3 separate regions of the Homo sapiens genome follow, and regions 2 and 3 are each linked to region 1. Evidence: fine-mapped expression QTL. A gene starts in region 1. Each other region holds a variant in brackets. All regions are shown on one strand. Distances are between the middles of the regions.

Region 1 (2,853 bases):
TACACTTGGGGGCTTTTAATTGCAGTCGTCCATCAGTTTTAAATTTTCAGTGTCTAAATATAAAAACGCAGCAATATAAAAAAAAGCCAGCTGTTTTCTTACTCAGAGCATGAATTGATGAGTTTATGAATGAGTGAAGTGACAGCAAGACTAAGAATAGTCTAGCCCTTTTCAATCACCTAAGCCATCTATCAATACCTTGGAGAGCTTCCAATTTCAGGTCACCTCCCCCGACCCCCCTCCACCCCACAACATTCTCGGAAAAAGCAAATTTTCAACTGACAAAGGAAAATGGATACATTAATATCTTCCATGTTTTTCAAAACATTTCGTTTATTTTGCTACTTGAAAACGGTCTTCCCTTTTGCCCCATGTAAAATAAAATTGCTCATGATCTATGGTCCCGTGAGAGCTTATTTAAGGAGCACTGACGGATTCTATTTTCCTTATTAATGTGGCATATTTGCCACGTGTGCAAATGAAAACATCCCTTTCCAATGAGTGCCTAGGAGGAAATCAGCTCTTCCTTCCTCGAAGAGTTTTAATTCATGGGTATGATCTATTTCTTTCTTTCTTTATTTTGTTTTATATATTTTTTAGAGACAGAGTCTCGGTTTTTTGTCCAGGCTGGGGTGCAGTGGCATGATCTCGGCTCACTGCAACCTGTGCCTCCCGGGTTCAAGCGATTCTTCTGCCTCAGCCTCCTGAGTAGCTGGGATTACAGTCATGTGCCACCACCCCCGGCTAATCTTTGTATTTTTAGTAGAGAATGGGTTTCGCCATCTTGGCCTGGCGGGTCTCGAACTCCTGACCTCAGGTGATCCACCCGCCTCAGCCTCCCAAAGTGCTAGGATTACAGGCGTGAGCCACCTCGCCCAGCCGGTAGGATCTATTTCTGAAGACAATGTGGAAGCAGAGTGTGGGCCCTCCACAGGTGTAGCGAGGCGGCGTGCTACCGCGAAGAAGGAGGGAAGACGCCTGAGCCCAGCCGGTGCCCTGCTGCCCCTCTGCCTCTTCGGCCACTGGGGCTGAGCTTCAGCCTTACCAATCCCCGCCGCGCACGCGCGCTCGCTTCCCGCGCGCAACCTCCCACCCCCGCCCTCACTGCACCTGCCAGGTCATAAACCTCTTCCCACCCACTCTCACTCTCTACCCAAGGCTCAGGCTTGTCTCACGTTGATTGGCCAGAGCCCACGAGGGCACGTCCAATCAGCAATCCCCCCTGCGCAACCTATCCCGGTTCTTCCCGCCCCCGCCCCGCCCCGCCCGCCCCCCCGGGTACCTACCGTCTCTGTGACTGGTGCGCGGCCAGGTCACTCAGGGCGGCGGGGCGAGGTGTGCGGGAGTGGGCAGGACGGGTGGGAGGAGGGGAGGGGTGGGAGAAGGCGGGGCTCAGGTGCCTGGCAGCGCGGCCGGGGCCCAGGAAGGGGAGGGGGCGAACGCTGGAGCGAGGCGGGGGCGGGTGAGGAGGGGGTGACGCCGGACGCGTCGACAGCGCGAGGGTTCGCGCGTGAGCTGCGCGGGTCGGGCCTGGTACCGAGCTTTCCTGGGGGCTAGCAGGTCGTGGACGCCGGCTCCTGGAGGAGAGCCGGTAGGAGGGAGTGTGAAGGTGTCCGCGGCGTCGTCGACGGCGGCGCCGGCCATGGAGGAGACGCAGCCGCCGCCGCAGCCTAAGCTGCCCCTGTGCGACAGCCTCATGATCTGGGTGAGTGCGAGGAGGCGAGAGGGCGAGGGGGCCAGGGGGCCGAGGCGAGGAGCCTGGGGCGCCCGGTTCTCCCAGGTGAGCTGGGGCTACCTGCACAGGGTCCCGGCGCACCCTGCCCTTCTCACCTCGTGCCCTTGACCGAGAGAATGCCACCTGCGGGTCGACGGGCAGGTGTGTGGGCGCGGGTTGGTGTCCGGGGGTGGGGGTAAAGGAAGCTCTGGGAGCGTAACAGTGGAGGCTCTGGTCTCAACCAGAGGATTCGACCTGCCTGGTGCCCTAACAGCTGGGATATGAACCAAGCACCCATCCTCTTTTCTCCCCGCTGCCCCATTTTCTCCCCCTGAACAGCGCCCGAGCCCTCCACTTTCTGGATCGCCGACTCTCTTGCCTTGGTCCGCTTGGGCGTGAAGACCCTTTCCGAAACCTAACCCTGCATCCTCAAACTACCTTGCTCTACCTGGACACAGGTGGCCAGGAGGTGGCTGGCTGTTTTAGTTCCCGGACCAATGCTCCTTCAGGACTCTAGAACATCCGATTTTGTAGAAGCCGCTTCAAAGAGATGTTTGTATTTCCCGTATGGAGAAAAAGATGTGTTGGGAGTCGGGGGTCGTTTTCCCTTTTTCTCGCTGGCCCTCTCCTCCTCTAAATGGACAGCATTTTCTTTAAAGAAAATGAGTTGACATTTTTCTTTAGGATTTATCTGTGTTTAGGATTTTTGTTAATTTGTGTTGGGTCTGGACAGGCATATCTGTCCCCAGATTGTTCAATATTCCAGTCAGCAAAATGACATCCCACCTCTTAGAGTTACTTAGATATCAGTGCTGGCATTCAGGTGTGGTTCTTAACCCATATTGAGTAAAGATGGTGTTTGATGAGCCACAAGGTGCTGTTGATGATGCTCATCCCAAACCAGTTGTTTAGTTGCGTCTAGGGGAGTGTGTGCAGATGGAATGTAAACAGACGGGATCAGGAGGCTGTAATCGGTTGAGATTCCCTAGTGATCTAATGCATCTAATTCCAAAGAATGAGAAATCTAGGTTTATGGAAATGTGTGAAGCCTATTGGAAATAGCCATAATTTAAAGCATTTACACTTTGTAAGTAAATAACTTTTGCTTTTAGTGGAATGCAAATATTTAGGGTTTGTGA
Region 2 (2,853 bases), 43 kb before region 1:
ATGCTAGGGTTTCCCAAGAGAAGGTTTATTAGTGGGAATGGTGTTTAGGTGCAAGTAATAATAACCCATCTGACAGCTAAATTGATATGATAAGATAGTTGTTATTTACAGGGACAGGCAGCCATCAAGTCAACTTGAGGATTCAACAGTTCCATCAAAGAGCCAAGCCCTTTTTATCTTCCTATTCCTCCAGTCTTCATCAGCTAGCAATTGACCTCAGGTTTGTTACTTCCGATTACAAGATGCTGACATCTCTAAAGGCATCTTATTTTCACAGCATCCATAACACGAGAATCTTCTCTCTATGCTATCCTTTTTTTGTTCTTTGTTTTTTGTTGTTGTTGTTGTTGTTCTTGTTGTTGTTTTTCCTGATCAAGGAAGAACCTCCCAGCAGACTTCTCCTTAGGTTTCATTGGCCAGATTCTGCATCACACTCCAGCCACTATGGATTGCTAAAACTGGCATAGAGAACTCATGATGCCTTCTCCGGGACTGGGCATATTGCTGTTCCAATGAAATCATGGTTCTGTTAAAAAGGGAGGGAGGGAATGGCTTTTGTATAATCAGCCAACACTATTTACCAAAATAACACTAGATTTCATTTTTAAAAAAGAGCCATGGCCAACTAAGTTTGGGAAACACTGAGTTAAATATGTCTTGTTACTACAGAATATCTTATACTAATCTTGTAATATACTCATGTGCATTGTGAGCTTCCTAGAGAAAAATTACCTGTGAAGCATTTCCCAGACTTACTCCTTTAGACAAGTTTTTTACAAAGCATTTTATTGCACATAATGGAACAACCACAGTATTTCGAAGGTTAATTAACCAAATCATCATGTTTTCACCTGAGTTGTATAGATGTTTTTCTTTCATATTATCTGTTGGAAGGTTTATTCAGCAAATTGATAGCTCCTATTATTAAAATTTTGGTTATCTAATTACAGAATTAAAATGATATTCACTGCTATAGAAATTATTGCCTTACGAATGAATGTTGCTAATTATCAATGTTTAAACTAGTCATTAGAAATAGGCTCAAAAAGACCTCTACTTGGAAATATAAGAAATTTCAACTGAAAGTTGTCCCTTCAGTTAAATTAAATTGTAGCTCCAGACCATGGGTCAAACTAACGGGATAGCAAGTGTCACATTAACTAATTATTAACTAATAATTAATTATTAACTAATAATACAATCATGCATTTCTTTGTTATATTTTTAAATTTAGTATTTCCATCCATTCTAACTTTGAAGTCTTCCTTCTCTATCCTGTATTCCATGTAGGAAACTCCCTAGTAATGTATATCAGGCCAAGAATATCACGCCTCTCCAACTTACTTCCCCTCCTTGTGCACACCCTCACCCTAAACCATACATACAACACAGACAACATTAATATATTATTAGGTCTTTTGCTAAAAAGAGTAAAAAGTTATTTCCTTAAGATCAAGCAAATACTAAAGGATAGTGTAGCTAACATTAGCTATTTTGCGACATGAGTTCTTAATACTAAATGTCATGAGTTCTATTAAAGTTGTGCTGATTTAAATTTCAACCTTGTATAGATATTTTAATATCATTTTGACAATATACTTCTAAGCTGTTTATTTACTTTAATGGTTTTGTAAGAAGTTTCTGCATACACTACAAGATAAAAACTTGTTACAATTAAAAAGGATTTGAAGGAACCATGAAGTTATTTTAACAGTAAACATGTTTATTTTTTGTATAAATTGTGCATTTTCCTTTT[T/C]TACATCTACATAGTAATTTTTAAAGTATAATTTCTGAAACATATGGCTTAGCTGTTCTACACAGGTGCTACATAGAGCTGGAGAACATATTGTGCTTATATGTATTCAAGCATATGTTTCAATCCTACTCTTTTTACAATAAACATTTCATCGACTTCCTGCTATTTATATCAGGAACACGTATTTGGCCTTGATTTCACCTGCTCTTTTTGTAGAGAGACTTACAAAGAGACTCTGGGAGGTTATGGAATCTACAGGAAATAAATACAATGTCGATTTTGTTACAAGGTGATTGAGCTGGTAAGGAAGTGGTTAAAAAATAAACCTTTACAACTGTAAGTGTAGAATGAGATAACAATGTGTTACTCTTTTCGTTTTTTTCTGATTATTTTACTCTCCCCAAAACCCTTTTACATTTGTACAAAAACTTAACTCAGTGTTTAAAAAATATTGTTTCTCATACTATAATCACAACTCTAGTTTTAAGAATAAACAGTTAATATACCAATAAGAATAACTAATAATAATAGTAGCTAACAGTGGATAAGTGCTCACCATGGGCAGGCTCTGGTCTATGCCTGATCCCACTTAATCTTCATAACAAACGGAAATGATCAGCACTGTTATTTATATTTTGCAGATAAGGAAAACGAAGCACAGAGCAATTAAATAACTTGCCCAAGATCGCCCAAGATCACCCAAGATGTCCGGCTGAAGTTCTTAACCATTACCTTACACTAATCAACAGCAACAATAATAATAACCACCTTTCTAGGATGCAAATTATGTTCCAAGAACTTTCATTATTTCATTACATCTGCATAGCCCCAAGAGTAAATAATATCCTGTTCTATTGAAGAAGAAACTGAGGTCCCAAGACATGAAATTACTTGCTCAAGGTCACACACTGGTAAGTGGCATTAAACCACCTCCTATAAGTGTCAGAAGATAATTGGGGCTGAGGTGGAGCTGAGATTTTAAAAATATCAGTGGTAGGAGATAGACGATGTGATGCCCCATTTAAACTACATGGCAGTGGTGTCCTACGACTAGGAGAGGAGAGGCGGGAAAAGCTGAAGTCTCATGAAATAAAAAT
Region 3 (2,500 bases), 300 kb before region 1:
AGGTACTCCAAAACCCTTATAAGTCTCTTAGATTTATTTTAATAATATATTTGGCTTATGTCCTGTATCCAGTTCCTTGGCTGCAGTCTTGATTTTATCTTGTACATAACTCTCAAGTCTTTCATTCATGTATTCATTTGTTCATTCATAAAACACCCGTTGAACACTTACCATGTCCAGGCATGGTGCTAGAAGACAGTGAACTTAAAACAAAACCAAATAAAACCAAAGTCTCTTCCCCAGCTTTTAATGGGAAAACACACAGGGAAACAAAGAATTACAGTAAAGAATGATGACTTCCTCATCCTTATTGCAGGTTGTGTGTGTTTTTTGCAGGGGAAGTTGTTCTGGTTCTCAGCATCTCTCATCTCAACTGTAGCCATATATTTTTTTCCTAGCCTTTCATTCTAACAATGTTTTGTTTTAAACTATGATTTATAATTCATGAGATCAATTTAGCAGGACATGACCACTGAATTTGCACAACAGAATGGAACAGAATTGAATAGAACAAAGTGGAAAACATCAGAGTACATTTCACAAAGTAAGGGAAGGCACTGCTTTGTGGAGCTGTGTTTCCATTCTGTGTGTGTATACTTTCAGACACTTCCATACTCTGCCCATGCATTTACACCTCTGTGACTTGGCACACATGTTCTTTGTCCAGAATGATTGGTCCTCCACTTCTCCAGCTGGCTAACTCCTCCTCTAACTGCAAGACCCATATCAGATGCTTTCTGCTCTGCATAGCCTTCCATGAAACACTCAGGTGTATTTAGAAATTCTCTAAATTATGCTTTTTTTCAGCACACTATTTGAAGAAATGATCATATTGCATTGTAATTTCAAATATATCTGCATGTCATTTCCATTAGAGTGTGAACTCCTTGAGAACAGGAACATTATGTTATCTGTCCTGTATCCTTCATGCCAAGCCCTATGTCTGGTTCCTATAGCTGCTTATTAAGTTTATTAAATGAATAGTCACATTAAGGCAAGAATAAGGTGAAATGGCTTTAAACAGTAGAGTGAAGATTAATCTGTTTTCTTATGCAACGGATTATTAAATGGTGCCTTGTTCTACATACTACATGGATTTCCAGAGCAGGATCGCTCTCATCAATCTATGGACATGTCTGTCCTGTTCATCTCTCTGTCCTCAGGAT[C/T]TAAAACAGTGCCTAAGAATTAGTAAACAACTCATAATATATGTAGGTTGGTTGAATGCTATGTAACGTAGTTCTGATTACAGGCAAGGTTGTTTCTCTCCAAATACTTTTCAGTGTGAGCAATGTGTGCTTTTGATTGGAATGTTAAGATTTTGGTTTTTACATACAAGCACAGAGAGAACTTGAGGTCTAGGCAGACATGGAGTGTTTCTGTCCCCTAGCAATCCTGACATTCCAGATCATGTGTGAGGCCACAAAAGCTTTCTCTGTCATGCTTTTTAAATTATCCCTGGGGTGACAGTGTCAATCATCCACCCCTACCTGGGTGACAATCACTTGGCTGGGACCGGCATATGCTGAAAGAAAGAGAACTGCTGCTTGAAGAGCCGCAGGCACTACAGTTTCCTTGTCAGTTTCCCAGACTTCCCTCAGGGACGTGCCAAAACACACCTTCTCACTTCTGCCCAGGACTCACTATGTCCTCCAGGAGGGGAGACTGTCAATGACCCTCACCTTTTTCCTAAACAGAGATGTTCAGTGGCAGAAGTTTTACCCTTAGAAGCTTTGGCTTAAGCCTTTTGTTCCCCGTAAAATGCAAATGCTTGTAAGTGATATGGTTTGGCTGTGTCCCCATTCAAATCTCCACAGAGTTGTATCTCCCAGAATTCCCACATGTTGTGGGAGGGACCCAGGGGGAGGTAATTGAATCATGGAGGCCGGTCTTTCCCATGCTATTCTCGTGATAGTGAATAAGTCTCACGAGATCCGATAGGTTTATCAGGGGTTTCCGCTTTTGCTTCTTCCTTATTCTTTCTTGCTGCCACCATGTAAGAAGTGCCTTTTGCTCTTCGCCATGATTATGAGACCTCCCCAGCCATGTGGAACTGTAAGTCAAATTAAACCTCCTTTTCTTCCTTGTCTCGGGTATGTCTTTATCAGCAGCATAAAAACAGACTAATACAGTAAATTGGTACCAGTAGAGTGGGGCATTGCTGAAAAGATACTTGAAAATGTGGACACAACTTTGGTACTGGGTAACAAGCTCATAGAGGGAAGAGACTTGCCTTGTCTCTGATGAGACTTTGGACTGTGGACTTCTGGGTTAATTCTGAAATGAGTTAAGACTTTGGAGGACTGTTGGGAAAGCAGCTGGGAGGGAGGCTGTACCCTGCAAAGCCACAGAGGCAGCGCTGCCCAAGACCATGGGAACCCACCTCTTGCATCAGTGTGACTTGGATATGAGACCTGGAGTCAAAGGAGGTCATTTTGGAGCTTTAAAATTTGATTGCCTTGCTGGATTTTGGACTTGCCTGGGCCCTGAAACTCCTTTGTTT

Which allele goes with the higher level. Alleles are on the strand shown, and positions count from the first base shown. SD is a standard deviation of normalised expression in the study named. Not every link is listed here.
For the expression in gastroesophageal junction of the gene that starts at base 1,474 in region 1, allele C in region 3 goes with a higher level than allele T (large effect, 1.0 SD a copy in GTEx).

Evidence for each region. PIP is the estimated chance that this variant, and not a neighbour inherited with it, causes the effect.
Region 2: its variant is fine-mapped to the expression of HOOK1 in blood mononuclear cells (TOPMed, PIP 0.91).
Region 3: its variant is fine-mapped to the expression of HOOK1 in gastroesophageal junction (GTEx, PIP 0.97).

The regions. Positions count from the first base shown.
Region 1 is chr1:59,813,476-59,816,328 of GRCh38, forward strand. HOOK1 (hook microtubule tethering protein 1) reads left to right here and starts at 1,474. Exons shown (of 22, transcript NM_015888.6): 1 at 1,474-1,705. The coding sequence starts at 1,643. LOC105378758 (a long non-coding RNA gene) reads right to left here and starts at 1,391. Exons shown (of 5, transcript XR_947426.3): 1 at 1,287-1,391. RefSeq lists a silencer at 942-1,541 and an enhancer at 1,778-2,341.
Region 2 is chr1:59,770,371-59,773,223 of GRCh38, forward strand. LOC105378758 (a long non-coding RNA gene) reads right to left here. Exons shown (of 5, transcript XR_947426.3): 5 at 450-526. LOC101926944 (a long non-coding RNA gene) reads left to right here and starts at 2,425. Exons shown (of 3, transcript NR_110627.1): 1 at 2,425-2,667. The variant T/C (reference allele first, on the strand shown) is at 1,757.
Region 3 is chr1:59,512,774-59,515,273 of GRCh38, forward strand. The region is part of intron 7 of FGGY (FGGY carbohydrate kinase domain containing); the gene reads left to right. Among named protein-coding and RNA genes, the nearest start is that of FGGY, 220 kb to the left of the region's middle. The variant C/T (reference allele first, on the strand shown) is at 1,167.